Linked DNA regions of Homo sapiens: region 2 is linked to region 1. The links come from fine-mapping of genetic effects on gene expression. A gene starts in region 1. The other region holds a variant in brackets. All regions are shown on one strand. Distances are from middle to middle. Region 1 holds the start of ADAMTS18 (ADAM metallopeptidase with thrombospondin type 1 motif 18). Region 2 overlaps ADAMTS18 (ADAM metallopeptidase with thrombospondin type 1 motif 18).

The links. PIP is the estimated chance that this variant, and not a neighbour inherited with it, causes the effect. A credible set is the group of variants that fine-mapping cannot tell apart.
Region 2: its variant is the best candidate, but not a certain one, in a credible set for the expression of ADAMTS18 in prefrontal cortex (CommonMind, PIP 0.61).

What each region holds. Positions count from the first base shown.
Region 1 is chr16:77,430,286-77,438,918 of GRCh38, reverse strand. It overlaps ADAMTS18 (ADAM metallopeptidase with thrombospondin type 1 motif 18), which reads left to right and starts at 3,885. Exons shown (of 23, transcript NM_199355.4): 1 at 3,885-4,313; 2 at 4,414-4,501; 3 at 7,308-7,624. The coding sequence starts at 4,224. RefSeq lists an enhancer at 3,689-4,189.
Region 2 is chr16:77,354,579-77,363,211 of GRCh38, reverse strand. ADAMTS18 (ADAM metallopeptidase with thrombospondin type 1 motif 18) reads left to right here. Exons shown (of 23, transcript NM_199355.4): 7 at 948-1,107; 8 at 3,789-3,894; 9 at 7,135-7,272. Among named protein-coding and RNA genes, the nearest start is that of ADAMTS18, 76 kb to the left of the region's middle. The variant G/C (reference allele first, on the strand shown) is at 4,037.

The DNA of each region.
Region 1 (8,633 bases):
GTTGAAATAAGTTAAGCCTTGTGTTCTATTTTACCCTCTTCTAGGTTTAGATGTGTGACTATGGACATCTATCTCTTTGGACATCAAAATGTTTTCTACAGGAAAGTACTGGACACCCGTTCAGTAAGACCCAGCCCACTGTTTGATGCAGCTTTGAGCAGCTAGAGGAGGAAGAGTTTCCCTCTACTCGCTGACGGAAAAGGAGAGGAGCAAATAAGGAGTTAGTCAGTCATAGCACAGAAAGTCAACTGCACCGGAAGAGGCAGTAAGTGTTTCTTACTTTCCATGGAAGGGATGTTTGCATCTTCATGAATCCAGGGACAAAGGAAAGTGAGTAAGCAACGTGGTTTGCCATTTATTTTTTGATCTGTCTAGGAGGAGGCAAGTATCTTAATGTTATTTGGCAAAAAAAATAAAAATAAAAATAAAAATAAAAAAATAAAAAAGCTTATGTCAGTAGAAAAAGAAAATCAATGCCTAGAACTGTACCATTGATTTTAAAGGAAGAGAAAGGAGGAATATTTTTCGTGGTTAAGAGTGAAACACTGTGATCTCTCTATCTCAAATTTCCCCCCATTCCTCCCTCCCTCCCTCCCTCCCTCTGCTCCTCTTACAAACATTTATGAATGTCTGTTACGTGGCATATTCTGGGCTACGTCTGACAGAATACAACACATCAGCGATGAGCTCTGCCCCCCCATATCCCCATTAGTTTATTGCAAACTTCAGATAGCCATTGTAGTGTCCTAGATTTATCATTTTAAAATCAGGTAAGACTGACATTCCCAAGTAACTTAAAAGCTACTTTGCAGTTTATAACTCCAAGACTGGAGCATGGGCTCATGATTCTCTGTCACCATCTAGAGACAATTTATACATATTGCAGGGCCAGTTCCTGGAAAACTACGTATAAAATCATCCCAGAAGTTATGGCTTTGCAAGTATTTATCAGCCCTAAAAAAGAGACTAGACATCTACAAATGAATGGAACTGCAAGTTTTTATCTTCCAGGTCTAGAACTATGCAAGAAATGAGTCTCAGTTTCTGTGCCCAATCATGGAGGACTTGAATCTGTGGAGAGCAAAGATTGACTGGGGTATGGAAGAAGAGCTGTAAAATCAGTTAAGGATAAACTACTTACATTAGGTTCAAGAGGAGCCCTCTAGACTCTCAAAAAAAAATGGGCACTCAACAAAAAAATGTCACAGAATAGGACTGGGAATCTGTACTATTTATCCAGGTTCTCACCTAGGGGAATTTTACCCACCAGGAAACATTTGGAAATCTCACAACATTTTGTTGCATTTTGGGGGCTGCTACTGGCATTTAGTGAAGTAGAGGCCAGAAATGCTGCTAAACATCCTATGTTTATAATGTACAGGATGATAGCCCCTACCACAAATGATTATCCAGCCCAAATCTCAGTACTGCTGAGATTGAGAAATTCCACAATTGAGCATAGAGCATAGTTAAGGGTTGTTCTCCGAGACTTCAGCCCTGACCATGGCAAGTAACCTATATTGTTAGCCCTAAAAGAGGAGGATCAGAAAAATATGGACAATTTCATGCAAATGTATCTTAATGGAGAGACACAAATCAGGGCCATGGTTATTTTTAGCTGAGTGTGGACAAGCCCTTCACCCTCCAGGTTCCGTCAGTGTTCACCTGATGATGTCGCTGACAGTGCTGTCAATCCCAGTCTCCTGTTTTATTCAGTCCGTTGCTTGGTGATGTGACCTCCAGCAGTGTTTTACTGCATGTCTTTGATGTCCAGTTTCCTCTTGTGTCCAGTTCTTCATGGAATCATATGAAGCACTTAAGTCACTTGTGTCTGAATCACCCACAAGTGCTTACTACAAATGCATGCTTGGGCCCTACACCAAATCCATGGAATCAGAATCACAGTGCTTCATGGCCTGGAAATCTGCATTTTTAAGCTAGCATTACAGGTGATTTTGACGTATATTCAAGTTTGACACAGGATGTATGAAATAACAGAAATACACCATCACTTCTTAAAGTCCACTTATAATGTGCTTTGAAAAATATATTCACTTACCCCTCAGGCTATCCTTTTGATGTAGCATGTTGATTCCTATTTTACAGATTATAAAACAGAGGCCACAGAGCTTAACCAGATTAAGTAGGGAAACCCAAATGATTTGTTTAGCCCTGATGTTCTGTGAGGCTTAGCTTCATGTTCCTTAGGCAGACACATCACCTTCTCTGCCGCTACAGCCTGGGTTTACCTCTTCCCAGCTGCATTCCATAAAACCGACTATGTGTATTGAGCTATCACTTAATCGAGGCTTGACATAGACCTCATGTTAACTACTTCAGTACCCACAGGACTGAGCAGAGTAATACATCTACTTCCACTACCACTACCCTGGTCCAAGCAAGACACTGTCATTGTACCCCTTCATGCCAGCAACAGCTGCGTGGTTTGTTTCTCTCTGACCCTGCCTCAGCTCGTCCAATCCCTACACTCGCTCAAAAAATGGTTCACATTTTTTTATTATTGGATATGATGTTGCCTCCTACACATACACAAACCCACATTCATTTAAATCTAATGGTTTCCAACATGCTTCGCCCCAGCTTACAAGGTCCAGCTGACCCAGCAACTGCTGTGTTTGCTTCTTCCTCTGGCCTGTAACACTTTTCACGTGGCAATCACTTAACTACCTTGAGACCTTCACTTATGCTGTGCCCCCTGTCCTAACATGCAAGATCCTACTCCCCTCTTCCCTTATAAAACCGATCCACTCTCTCTGGCCTTATTTTAAGTGTCAGCTCCTAACAGATGCCTTGCACGTGTATGTATGCGTGTGTGTGTGTATATATATGTGTGTGTGTATATATACACCCACACACACACACACACACACACACACACACACACATCTTATCCCATCTAAATTAGATTCTGCTGCCATCTAATTTAGGAGACTATTCTTTTCCTTTTTAGTATTTGTGTTCATTTTGCTTCTATTACCGTTGTCGAGCTATCCAATCAGATTCGTTTCCACTGGCCCGTGAGACTGTATTTTGTTCACCTCTGCAAACAGGGATCAAAGGATCAAATAAATGTCTTGAGTAAACGAACAGGCACACAGCAAACTGGATGCACATTCCTAGTGATGGCGTGCGCTGTTTGTTATAACTGATTTCTGTGGGTTTGGGTATCTGGGGCCAAGATTCAATCTCGAAGAGTGGGAAGCACGGTCACGTCAAGAAGAGAGAGAGAGATCCGGGAGAAGAGGGAGGCCCCCGCGTGCCATGAGTTTTTACATGCTGCAGACAGTGACAGCTCATTGTTCTGGTCCTCCCGGCTGCCTCAGATTTGCTGACTCTGGGAAGCTAGGTCAGCTTGTGCGCATCTGAGCCTCCTTTTCCTCATCTTTATCAAGGAATTAATAATTCCCACCTGAAAAAGGTAGGGCCTGAGGCAAATGCGATACAGCAGGGGATAGCTCCCAGCACTTAGGAGGTGTTGAGGACGCTATCTTGACTCTTTGCCAGAAGAGTTGAAAATGAGAAGTCTGCACAGGCAGCGAAAAAGTCGCGCCACTCACCTGAGCCTTTCGTCTTCCGAACTCATCTCCCAGTGCGCTTAAATTACGTTTTCCAAGCCTGACCCTGGGCGCTCCCCTCCTTCTCATGGCGGTCGGTCCCTCCCTCCCTATCACTCCCACCCAGCCTCCCCGCCCCCTTCGCCCCCTCCCTCAGAGCTGGAGCCGGGAATCCCACGCCCTTGCACCAGCCCGGGGGCTCGGACGAGCCCGGGAGCCGCTGGTCGCCAATCACCGCGCGGTGGAGAGGCGGGCGCTCGGCTCCGGCGCGCTGGGGGAGCCAGCTGGCGCTGTCTTCCCCATCGCCTCAGACGCTCACACCGACACAGACAGACGCACAGACGGGCGGGCAGACACCGACAGTCTCCCAACCGTTTGCGCTCCAGTCCCGGCCCAGGGAGCCCCCCGTACCCTCTGGGGTGCCGCAAACTGCAGCTCGGCAGGCCCGCGCCGGGAGAAGGGAGGGCGCGCAGGCGGCCGGAGGAGGGGAGGTCCCAGCGCGCCCCCGCTGCGATGTGAACGGCGGCGGCTCTCACCTGGAGCCGCACCTGGGGCGCCGAGCTCCGGGGCCGCGGAAAGAATGCGCGCCGCCCGTGCGCTCCGCCTGCCGCGTCTGGCCACCCGCAGCCGCCGCGTCCGCACCTGACCATGGAGTGCGCCCTCCTGCTCGCGTGTGCCTTCCCGGCTGCGGGTTCGGGCCCGCCGAGGGGCCTGGCGGGACTGGGGCGCGTGGCCAAGGCAGGTGCCGCCGAGCGGAGCTCCGAGAGCGGGTGGCAGGGGGCGCCCGACGCCAGCCCCGCCGCGCCCCTCACGCGCGATGTCACCTTTTCTCTTGCAGGCGCTCCAGCTGTGCTGCCTCTGCTGTGCGTCGGTCGCCGCGGCCTTAGCCAGTGACAGCAGCAGCGGCGCCAGCGGATTAAATGATGGTTCGTATTTGCCCCCCATCCCCAAGAAGGGCCTTTCGCAGCACTTTGACCCTTCCTTCCCCCAAAGAGAGAAAAGATGGAAAAGCGCACCCCCTAACCTGGCAGGTGTGCGCTGTCTTGGAAATGGTTCCTGTTTGGAGAGGGGGGAAGGTTGGCAAGGACTGAACTTATCAAAAGAATCAACGCCCCGAGCTGCAAGTCACATAAAAGCAAATACTCTCCCTCCTTCACAGGTGGCTTGTTAAGAAGAACAAGAAAAAAAAAAAAATCCTAACTGCAGTGAGAAATTCGAAGGGAAGTGGACATTAACTAAGGAATTACTTATTTCCTCCCTCTCCTAACTCTTGTTGGGGGAAGCTAATTCTTAGTGGGAGATGAAAGAATGTGAGCCTCTTTCCTCTCTCCATCTTTCCTCATTTTTCTCTCGACTTCTGTTCCTTTTCTATCTCTTCTTTTTTTTTCATTTCTGCTTCCCTTGTTTTACGGATGTCTAAGGCTGCTTTTAGAGAGAGGAAAGCAGGTGACTTCAGGTCTCTGAGTCCTTTATCTATCTTTTCTGACGTTCGCCAGCCACAAACTTCCAGAAAATCCCTCACTTCTGACATTTATTAACTTCCCAGTGGAGCCCAGAGGGAAATCCTTGTTTTGATTGTTTCCCATCAGCTACAGGAGAACAGCTGATTCCTGACGCAAGGTGTCTAGGAAAACCTTACAGCTCAACCTGGATTCTTTAGAATTCTGTAATTTTTAGTTTTGCAAGGTTATCTCCTTTTCTTGTCAGGGGAATGGGGAGTGGGGCAGGATGGAGTCATGGAGAAGGGATTCACCTTTTGTCCAAACAGAGAGGCTGCAGTTTCTAAAACCACCCCTCATTCTTATATCAGGATCAGATGGCTGGAGGCCACGTCCGACCCAGCCACAACCTTGTAAGGACCTCACCCTTACTCACCTCCTGAAGTGGTCAATCAGAGATCACTCTTTACAGGGGACACTGACTGCCCTTCTTCCATCAAGAACCGAATGTAACCGACAGCCTGTTATTCTCCCCTTGGAAACAAGCTGGTAGCAGGTGTCTGGGGCCGTTTGATGGCTGGTTCCATAGAAGGCTGGCTGGATAACGTTCCTACAGAGCCTTCCAAGTAAGAGCAGGCAGAGTTTCAGATGATTTGGGACAAGAAGGTGAGACACAGACTTCCTGCATATGTCAGGAATCTTTTTCATAGTTAAGTTTTAGTTTGACAGAAGGAGAAGGTAGACTTTCTCTAAGAAATTGCACATAATCAAGAGCCACATCCCTTTAAAGCAATGTATCAGATTTTTAAGAGAAGAAAAATATTGTATGTCTGGCTCAGATTTTCAAGGTTAAGAGAGGGGAAAAACTTTTCCCCCCATTATTGTAAAATATGTATGTCAATTATACAGCATTTTTAGTTAAAGGAGGGAGTCAAGAAGAAAAATGGGAGTGGGAGGACATAAAGAATATAAAAATGAAAGCTGCCCAAGGAATAAGTCACAGATGGTTCATAAACAGAAGAAAATTATTGTCTATTGTGGAGAATTCTTTTTTAATGTGAGCCTAATTAGGCCATCACTCATTGATCTTTGCTAGCTACAGGGGCTCCACTATTCCTTAGTTTTTTTTTTTTTATTGGAGGAGGGGGAAGGTTGTTGACTGTTTAGGGAAAAGAGAAATTTCTCTTCCTTTTCCTCCTCCAGTAACTGGGGACCCAAGTGACTCAAACATACCTCGTCATTATTCAACAGCTTTCTAAACACTTTCCAAAGTAGTTTCCCATTCTGTGCCTTGAAAGTGGAAATGCAGGCTGTTTTTTAATGCACAGAGGGCATATTCCAAATCATTTTGTGGGATGATGCTTTTCAGCTTCAATGTTTGGTGAAAGAAAACAGTGTGCTGGCTTTGCTTTTCAAATAGCAAATTGTATTTTAGCTCCTCCTCTTTGGAACATTCAGCAATTAGTACTGCTCTAGGGAGCAGTGGTGAAGGTATTTTTAAACATGCCTTTCCAGGTGTCCCCTGATCTGACACTCCCCCACCAACATGCCTGAGCAATTTTATACATCAGACTATATAGGAGGGTTCTGACAATTTTGAGGCATTTTTGTGCATGCACTGTATTTTATGCTTACAATTAAATGGGATCATCCCTGTGAAAGCTCACAGTAAAATGCTAAGGGTGATACAAGTGCTGGAGTTTTCTTATCACACATAAATAATATTGGAAAAATGAAAATGCTGTTGCTTGTTAATGATCTGAAATATCATCTGAGGCTACCCCACACTGTGAGTTAGGACTTGAAATGTAAACTCTGCCTCTGCCAAAATGTTCCCGATTCAGTTTAAGCACAGAGAAATTAACCTCCTTGAAGAAATTTCCCGATTTTGTAGTTTTATGTTTATTAACTTTATCTTCAAAAAAATTAAATTTTATATATATGAATGGTTCTGTGGCCAATATTATAAAAGGCCCAGACCATTAAACATCAAAAGAATGTTCTAAATCTCTCTCCAGACAATGAGAGGTGTTACATTTTTCCACAGACATCCATGAAATTCATCAAAATTGTGCTTGGCTTTCGGGCACCTGTAGAAATGACTGTGGCCGAGTTAGTTGTAGAGACAGGTCTTCTGCTGCCTGTGCTGCTCTGAATTATATTTGATCTAGGTGCAAGGCAATAGGAACAAAGATATCTTTGAGCTTTGTGTTGCTCTTTGCCAGCTTGCTGGAAAGAGACCATTTGGAATTGTGGGCTCTGGGTGCTGACAGCTGAACTTTTCCCATTGCAGATTACGTCTTTGTCACGCCAGTAGAAGTAGACTCAGCCGGGTCATATATTTCACACGACATTTTGCACAACGGCAGGAAAAAGCGATCGGCGCAGAATGCCAGAAGCTCCCTGCACTACCGATTTTCAGCATTTGGACAGGAACTGCACTTAGAACTTAAGCCCTCGGCGATTTTGAGCAGTCACTTTATTGTCCAGGTACTTGGAAAAGATGGTGCTTCAGAGACTCAGAAACCCGAGGTGCAGCAATGCTTCTATCAGGGATTTATCAGAAATGACAGCTCCTCCTCTGTCGCTGTGTCTACGTGTGCTGGCTTGGTAAGTACACCCCAGTCTGAGTTGAGCTCCCTCTTTCGTGTTTTGTGTAACTTGAATGAACAGATGTCTGCAATATAAATGCTCTTCCAGCCAACTCCACACATTCACACTGTCAGCCTTGATACTTCTAATATTCTCAATTGAATTAATCTAATGTGCTCCCAGAAAAAGAAAATATAATAGAACTTTAATTACCATTTAGAACAATCTTTTGATGTTTAATGGTCTGGGACTTTTCATTCTCCATGTTTGAGATGATCCCCAAGGAAATTAACTTGATGGATGCCATTCGCTTTGTAATGTCCCGGGAGACCAGGCATTCTATAAATCTAACAAGCTTCATGCGTCTACATGGCTTTGAAATGGGAAAACTGTATTTCAATGCGAAATTGCATTCAGCAGCACTGGTAAGATCAACCTTCACTTTGCTGAAGGGAGGCCTTTTGTCTTCTTTGAACTAATCTGTTGCTGGTGTCCTGCTCACATAAGACATCCTTTTAGAATGTGGGGTGCTGTGTTCCTGGGCTGGCAGGATTAAATGTGGCATTCAGGGAAGCAGAACCTTTTAAAAGCATTTGGGACCAGTGTTATTTCCTCCCTATGTAATCCTCATCTGCTGAGCACCAGGCCAAGAATATCAGTGTAAATGATACTCTTCTCAGGATTCAATCAAATATACGAGGCGGTAAATGTTGTTCTGGGTTGATTTCATTCTGTGTTGTGATTGAGAAGTGTCTTGAATTGACAGAAGAGTTTGTGTGTGTTGAGACACATGGTGATTGTGCTCTGGCATGGCCAGAAGAAGGAAAATGTGAGAAAGCCCAAGTGAGGATGTAGTGAGTAATGTACATGGTACATCATGGCACAAAGCAAGAGGGGTGGCTTGGGTACGGGTGAATGCGGACTCCCATGTTCTTTGTTAGTTGAAACTTTCAGTTACTTTTTAATTTTTTCCCCCTATTATGGCCTGAAATTTAGCTAAAACCTTTCATTACAACCACAATCACGG
Region 2 (8,633 bases), 76 kb after region 1:
GAACATGTAATAAAGTGTTAAATTACATGGTACTCACTGCTTTGTAGTGTTTTGATGTTTAAACTCTGTTTCTCTGAGATAGCGATTACCATTCAAATGGCTATTTTTTAAGTCCCCCGAGGCTTTTCCTCTTCTTCTGTAACGCCAGTAAAAAACATAAAAAGCAGGAAGACACAGACAAGACAAAAGTTGATCTAATTGCCCAGGTGTGGAGAGCTACAGAAGTTAACAGCTTGTCAAATGGTTTTTGGAATTTTAGAAAGACAGAAAAGGCGTGTGCTGGTTAGGAGACACTTTTGTCTTTAGCCTACTAATAGGTTGCCCAAGGACCTTGAAGCCAGCCACATCCTAATTAACTGATAATTAAAGATCTTGTCTAAAAACCTTCAACTTGGCCAAGTCAACAGCTTTGACCAAGCAAACATTTGACAAATGATTATTTTAAGGGTAGGTCCTCTCTTATCCTTTGGAATCATATCATCATTTGTTTATTCATTCAGTGAATTTTCATTATATTGATTGATTGATTGTAATCTATGATGTGCCAGACGCTTTGCTGGGAATTTTGACATCTATGGAAATAATGATGAGGCTTTATGGAAAAGCCATTGAACTTCATCATTAATTTATTATCATGTTTTAAAAGTTGTAACGGTTTTATAAAGGTAGTACTAGGTAAGATGAACAAAGGTGTTCTAACTGATGCTAGGTTATTTTTTGTAGAACTATGATCAATCATAAATCACACTACAGAAACTTTGTAGTTGCTTTAAATATTGTGAGCATTTACCTAAAATAGAGATTTTCCTGTCTCCTACCTTAGCTCAAGTGTTTACTGATCTTTTTCCCTAGAAATATGTTTCTGTGTTTGCCTGTACAAATGGAATGATTCAGCATTCTCATCTCTGTGACAAATTCACACTTTGATTTGTGTGGGTTTCCCATAGGGAGGATTATTGATCAACCATCATGCAGACCAGTCTCTGAATAGTTTTTGTCAATGGCAGTCTGCCCTCATTGGAAAGAATGGCAAGAGACATGATCATGCCATCTTACTAACAGGATTTGATATTTGTTCTTGGAAGAATGAACCATGTGACACTCTAGGTATGGTATGAACAGATCCTTCACACACACCTGTTAGCTGAAAACACAGTATGGAAACTTTCTATGGATGATGGATAGCCCTTATGTTCCTTAATAAACAGACATAATATTTAAATTATGGAGTAACCTAATGTACCCTGTGGTGACTATTGTTCTTTTTAACTGAACTTAGAATGTGGGGAGCCCACTTAGTTTATTCATTTTGTATTTTTTTTAATTTGAGATGGAGTTTCACTCTTGTTGCCCAGGCTGGAGTGTAATGGCACAATCTCGGTTCACTACAACCTCCGCCTCCTGGGTTCAAGCAATTCTTCTGCCTCAGCCTCCCAAGTAGCTGGGATTACAGGCACCTGCCACCATGCCTGGCTAATTTTTGTATTTTTAGTAGAGACGGGTTTCCACCATGTTGGCCAGGCTGGTCTCGAACTCCTGACCTCAGGTGTTCCGCCCGCCTTGGTCTCCCAAAGTCCTGGGACTACAGGCATGAGCCACCTCACCTGGCTTGTATTTTTCTTTATTGATCCTACTGATGATCATTGAGGTGTGAGATACATTATTTAACTAGAAACTTGTAGGTTATTCTGTAAGCATCATGACCACAGAATCAGGTAGCTGAAGAGGATTTTACTGGGCTCCATGGTACCTAACTGTGCCACTAGGTAACAGTGCCTTTTTTAGAAGTTACTTGACTTTGAAGTACTCATTTCTTCCATATTTGTACAAGACAGTGATAGCAAGAATTGCATCTTTTATATCTATACTATATTCTAGTATATTCCATTGCACATAATAGGAATTCAACATTTTTTAAAAGTTGATGGATGGCTGTCTAAATCAGGAGTCAGCAAACTTTCTCTGTGAAGGGCCAGACAGTCAATATGTTAAGCTATGCAGGCCACAGGTCTCTGTGGCAGCTAGTCATTTCAGCTGTATTGTTCAAAAGCAGCCACAAGTAATATGTAAATAAATGAATGCAGATGTGTTTTAATAAAACTTTATGAATTTTTTTTATTTTTTTGAGATGGTGTCTTGTTCTTGTCACTCAGGCTGGAGTGCAGTGGCGTGATTTCGGCTCACTGCAACCTCTGCCTCCCATGTTCAAGTGATTCTCCTGCCTCAGCCTCCAGAGTAGCTGGGTTTACAGGCACCCACCACCACACCTGGCTAATTTTTGTATTTTTAGTAGAGACGGGTTTCACCATGTTGGCCAGGCTGGTCTCGAACTCCTGACCTCAAATGATCCACCCACCTCAGCCTCCCAGAGTGCTGGGATTACGGGCATGAGCCACTGTGCCAGGGCAGAAATTTTATTTTTTATGTTTCTCAAATTCTCTGCAGTTTCTCTGTTATGTCCTATAAATAAGTTTATTTTAACAATTAACCATTAATCACAGTCTTCAAAAACACAATGATTTTGGGAATTGTTCCATAGAAAGGGTTTTTGTAATGAAAGATGGTATATATCCATTCATATTCTGAATTTGGAATGTGCAAAGTGACATATGATAATCCAGTGCATTGTTTTCAAGAGAGATTCTGAGAAGCAGACAGTGTTATCTGTTATCCAGAGACCAAAATGTACTAAAAGGCTTGGAAAAAACAAAACACCAGAAATTCTATCAACTGTGGAAAAGGTCACTTACTTTAAGCAGTGTGTCCTAATGCAAAGGGCATGGGCTTTGACTTCCCATATGTCTGTGGTTGATTCCTGAGTGTAGAATTTATGACTCTGAGATCTTGAACAAGTTAATTCACCTCTCTGAGCTTTGGTTTCCTAAGCTATAAATACATACACACACAGATATATAATAGACATATAGCACAGTGTGTGAATTTGCAACCATTTATTTAGTGACGATGACGATGGTAGTAATGATAATGATCCCACCCCTTATTTGTGCCTTTGTATTAGATTTCCCAGCTGATCTCACTTCCGTCTTGACAATGAAGTGGGTACAATCCATTCACAAGCATGCATTTAATATTAGATGGGTACATAGATTTGTTCTACTGATTATTAGGACCCAAAACTGGAAAGAAAGATGTTCGCACACACTGTATTGTATTTGAAGATAGACTTAAGGGCTGGCCGGGATGCTTTTATAATGGCTCTTAGAGGGAAGTAACTTTGGGAACAGAAGCACTTACCACATTATAAAGAACCAGAGAAAAATGAATTTAATCTGCACATGTTGCTTAGACATTTTCATGTTTTCTGCTCTAGTAAAAGACCAGGATATGTGTTTTTCCTTGGAAAATACACCCTGAGCTGTGACGTTAATGCCACTGTTCAGTGAGCATTTTGCATTGGTTTTGCTATCATTCTATCCGTTGCTCTGACCTGAATGATAAACTCAGACAAGGCATATAAATATTCTGTGACTTACTAAACTAAATGTAAAATGGGAATTACAGTACTCATACTGACCTTACAGGGCTCTTACAAGGATCAATTGATAACAATATGTAACAAAAGCAAGAAAATAGGAAATGTTGCATTTATACATTATCATTACACAGGACAAAGAACTATAGATCTTTTTTTTTTTTTTTTTCCAAAAACACTGAATGCATTGATCTATTAAACTAAAACTGTGTAGAACATTTTGAGGACATAAATCATCATCATGTATCTGTGTGTGCAACCTTTGGATTCACATTTGAAACTGCTCTTTCAATAGGGTTTGCCCCCATCAGTGGAATGTGCTCTAAGTACCGAAGTTGTACCATCAATGAGGACACAGGACTTGGCCTTGCCTTCACCATCGCTCATGAGTCAGGGCACAAGTAAGTGCCTCTTTGAACCACTACTTTATGTGAAAACTAGTTGGGTGATTCATTGGTGTTCCTCTAACCGTTGTTGTTGACTTAGGCAGAACAAAGAGGATCAGTCTTGTGTAAAGCTTAGAATAGTTTCTGACTATACAAA[G/C]GGCTCACTAAAGGCTAGCTGTTGTTGATTTCATTCTCTTTAAACAGCAGCACTTAATAGCCACACAGTACTCCTTCGTGTGCACAGATGGGGTCTCTGGGCTGCTAGGCATTTGTTTATTTTTGTTCATGTTTTGCAGCAATGAAGACACTTCTAGCTGATTCTTTATGCACAGGAAGTAATCATGGAGAAAAATTAATTCCCAAAGTATAATGGCATGCTGCTTTTTAAAAAAACTTTTGCTGCATGTACTGAATATTCTTTTAGTTGGCAACATTGCATGTACTTAATATTCTTTTGATTGGTGTCACTAAATCTTCCTTTTATGATGGAGACAACGCTATAGAGAATTTTCAAACATTAGAGCAATAGCAGCTGCATTGGAACAAGTATAATACTTTACAAAATAATTATTTCAATGTGTAGTACTCTTCAGATATACCAGTTTAGGATGTTTGTGTGTGTGTACTTGTGTGTATATTTTATTCAACATACAGGAAATAACTCATATATTTTCAAAGCATCTAGTTAATTTTTGACTTAAAAGCAAACATCATTCAGTAACCATAGTTGGTATTTTTATATGTTGGTGCTGCTATCTTTTTTCTTTTTTTGAGACAGAGTCTCCGTCTGTCGCCCCGGCTGGAGTGCAGTGGCACGATCTCGGCTCGCTGCAACCTCCGCCTCCCGGGTTCAAGTGATTCTCCTGCCTCTGCCTCCTGAGTAGCTGGGATTACCAGTGCCCACTACCATGCCTGGCTAATTTTTATAGTTTTAGTACAGATGAGGTTTCACCATGTTGGTCATGCTGACTACAGGTGATCTGCCGACCTCGGTTTCCCAAAGTGCTGAGATTACAGGTGTGAGCCACCACGCCCGGACAGTGCCAGTATCTTCTATGAGCTACATTTATTATCTTTAGGAAATTTAAACCTTGATCATTGTTGTTATTGTTATCCAACAAATTTCCAACATTATTATACACACACACACACATTTAGACACACATGCACACTTTCCTAGATATGAATAAGCCAATTTTTAAAATTGTAAATGGAGAAGCGAAAATGCTCACTAAGAACAATGCTTCTCATACAAAGCAGGAAACAAAATATGTGTGCATATCAAATGTATGTCTAAGTTTGTTTTACCAGCATGAAGTCCAACCGAACAGGTGTCACTTTTCAAAATACTGGTCATTGAAAAATTTCATTATCTTTGCATATGTGTTAAAATTATCCAAAATCAAAATCCAACATTTTAGATAAGGAAAAGCAGAACATATTCTTCAGGTAGGATTCAGGAGAGAAGTCAGAGGTTGGGGGAAGGACAGATGGTAAAATAAAATACATACCTAAGTTCTAAATAACATGGACTTAAGAAGTTCTGAAACAGACAATTCCTGAGATATTTATATGGCATTTGGCATGTGCTAAAGAAAATATGTTATCATCTTCTAAAATGCTATTAAATTAAATTTAAGATTGTTAAGTTCAAAATTAAATTCCGACTTGATTTTCTTACGCACATAAAATTCCACTGAAGTTCTAAGTAAGTTCTTTTCCTCTAGCGTAATGGCTTCAATCTCTCCTACCCCATCTCTGTTTCTGGGATTCTTGCTGTTTCTTCTCGTGCTTTATTTATAGGTTTCTTTCTGTTTTTTACTTTCACAAATATATTTAGAAAGGGTGTCTCCCAAAGAAATCCCCTTAACGTCTTGGTTAGGTGAGAAGAAGAATTAAATTGGGAAAAGCTGAGGATAAGAAAATGCTTTCACTGAGTATACATTGACGTTAGTCAATACCTATTTTTGAGTGGTCACCTCTGAATACCTAAGGAAGTCACTGATAGGATAGCATACAGTTGCCCTGCTACTATTTTCCTGACAAAGTGGAAGGAATGCTGGAAAAATGGCCATATTATAGACATGGGTCACAAAAAAAGTCATATCTTTTATCGTAACATATTTATTTGGTATAGACTACTTTCAAAGGCGAACTCTATAAATGAAATTATATCAGGATAACATTTATTTACATAGGAGTCATATCTGCCTTATAAATATATGGTCTAAGACACAAGTTTTATTCTTTTAAATAATGAGATTAAGAACAATTTAAATTAATGATGAAATTCATATTTATATCCTTCCGTCCTCTGCATCCCTAAAAAAAAAAAAAAAAAAAAAAATTTCAGAAAAGACTTTTCTCTGTGCTGAATTTTTTAGAGAAGATCAAAGACTCTTATTTCCCCATCTTCTACCACTTTAACATCGCCTGAAGTAAGCTTTGTCTTTATGGTATGTATCCTATGTGGGTATGCACATTAATGTCACATTTATTCTTCCTGTCAGGAAATTTGAGAATTCTTCAGGTATAATGTGCATGATTTCTAGACAGTAGACCACCTAAAGTTTTTCTTCTATAATTACTAGACCCTTCTGTGATGAAACAAATTAAAGTTTTCTCATATAATACATCTGAAAGATAACAGTAATGGTCAAGATTTAATAGCCTTCAATAAAGGGGTTCAAGCATGTTAAAAAAATGTTTATTATAAGAGAGTTTAATTACAATTAGAGTTTGTGATTTCAGCTAATAAATTGATCATAGTTGGAGAGAAGTTTTTATACCATGCTAGCCTTATATATGAACAGTTCATAAACAACTTATAATCATCATCTCTCTGTACTTACTTCCTACTGACTCTGAACTTCTTTACCATAGTTCCGTGGTTGGTGACAAGATAAGAATTCTACTGTTTGAAACTAAATAATTTGGCTGTTCCATCACTTTGGCTTAGCTTATACCTAAATTTTAACTTGAGCAAAATTTTCCAGCCCATAAAACATGTAGCAGCTAGACCATTCTTTGATTCTGTGGTCAGGAAATAATATAACAAAGCCCTCAGCATTTTTAAAGTTTTCTGTGTGAATTTTATAACAATCTATAGTAATTTGCCTTTCTCTTTTCCAGTTTTAATAACTCTGTCTCTCACTTGGTTTTGTTGATGATCAATACATCTTTATTCTTCCTCAGATTATCCTTCAAAAAAATGGGTTCACAAAGCAGGATTTTGTTTTCTTCATTCTGTTTCAGCTTTGGTATGATTCACGATGGAGAAGGGAATCCCTGCAGAAAGGCTGAAGGCAATATCATGTCTCCCACACTGACCGGAAACAATGGAGTGTTTTCATGGTCTTCCTGCAGCCGCCAGTATCTCAAGAAATTCCTCAGGTATGACAGGTTAAATCCTGGGGTGCTCCTAGGTTTGGAGTGATGACAGAATTGTGCTCCATAGACCTGCAAACGAATACTCAGTGGAAATACCTTTTGACCTGTCAATAAACAGAAAGACAAATGATGATGATAATGATGATGGTGATGATGACATTGTTGAAAAAAATAGATTGAAGCCTAATGTTGTGCTAAATGTTCTCCACATATTTCCTCCTTCAATCCTCACAGCGATACTATTATCCTCAATCTAGAGTTGAGAAATCAAGTCTTAGGTTAATTGTGTTGCATAAGGTACTATCGCTGGTAAGTTGCAGACAGAAGACTCACACTTAGATCTGTTCTGACTCTAGGATCTCTACTCAACCATCTCTCCCCTGTGACTTCCAGAGGCTGCTAGGTATATTGTCTTTTTACTGTGACTAATTATTTCAATGTTATCGATCAATGTGTCATAGAGTATTTTAAAAATGCTCAAATGGTATGAGTGTGTGTTTGTGTTTTAATGAATAGAGCATTTTCTTCTTTGACTATTATGTTTGAAATGGCCAGGAGCTAGCTTTATGTCCAAATGATAGCCAAAGAAGATGGTAGCTATATAAAATGCTTTTAATAACACAGAAACCTTAAGTTGCATTAGTAAAAGTAGGAGTTTGGAAAGTTGTACTATTTAATTCATATTAAACAATTAACCCAAAGTTGAAATACACACACACACACACACACACACACACACAATCCTACCTTTATAATCTATATTGACCCACAAGGACACTTAGATGCTAATCCCATATCTCTTTGAACAGATGTTAGTGAAATTTCTTTGGGAATTGACACTTTTGATACTTTATTTTTAACCTGTACCACTGTGTATTATTTGCAAATGTTTAAAGAATTAGTAAGATCTATACACAAAGCATATTAAACGTGAAGATATCTAACCACATATGCCCAAAGGGTGGTAAAAAATCAACAGACTTTTTGTTAGTAAGCTTTGCCATGAAGATTTTCCTATTAGTTTTAAATTCATGGTTTGGTGACTAAAATTATTTTTTCCAACTCATGTAAGAATGCAATTAATAAGTATTAAAATCAAGATCAACTTAACATAGGCTGAATTTCCGTTAGTATGTAGTTAAATGCTTTTGTAGTTAAATGTTATAATAATGATAACAGCAGCAGCTAACTTTGCTTATTATGCTTTATGAAGCATGTTATATTTTCTCATTTGAACTGTGTAACAACCTTTATGAGAGTCATTGTCACTCATGAGCTGTGTAAGAGCTACATAACTTGGTCTTGGTTGCATGGTTGATTAGGACCCCCATCTGTCTCACTACAAAATTACACTTAACCACCAT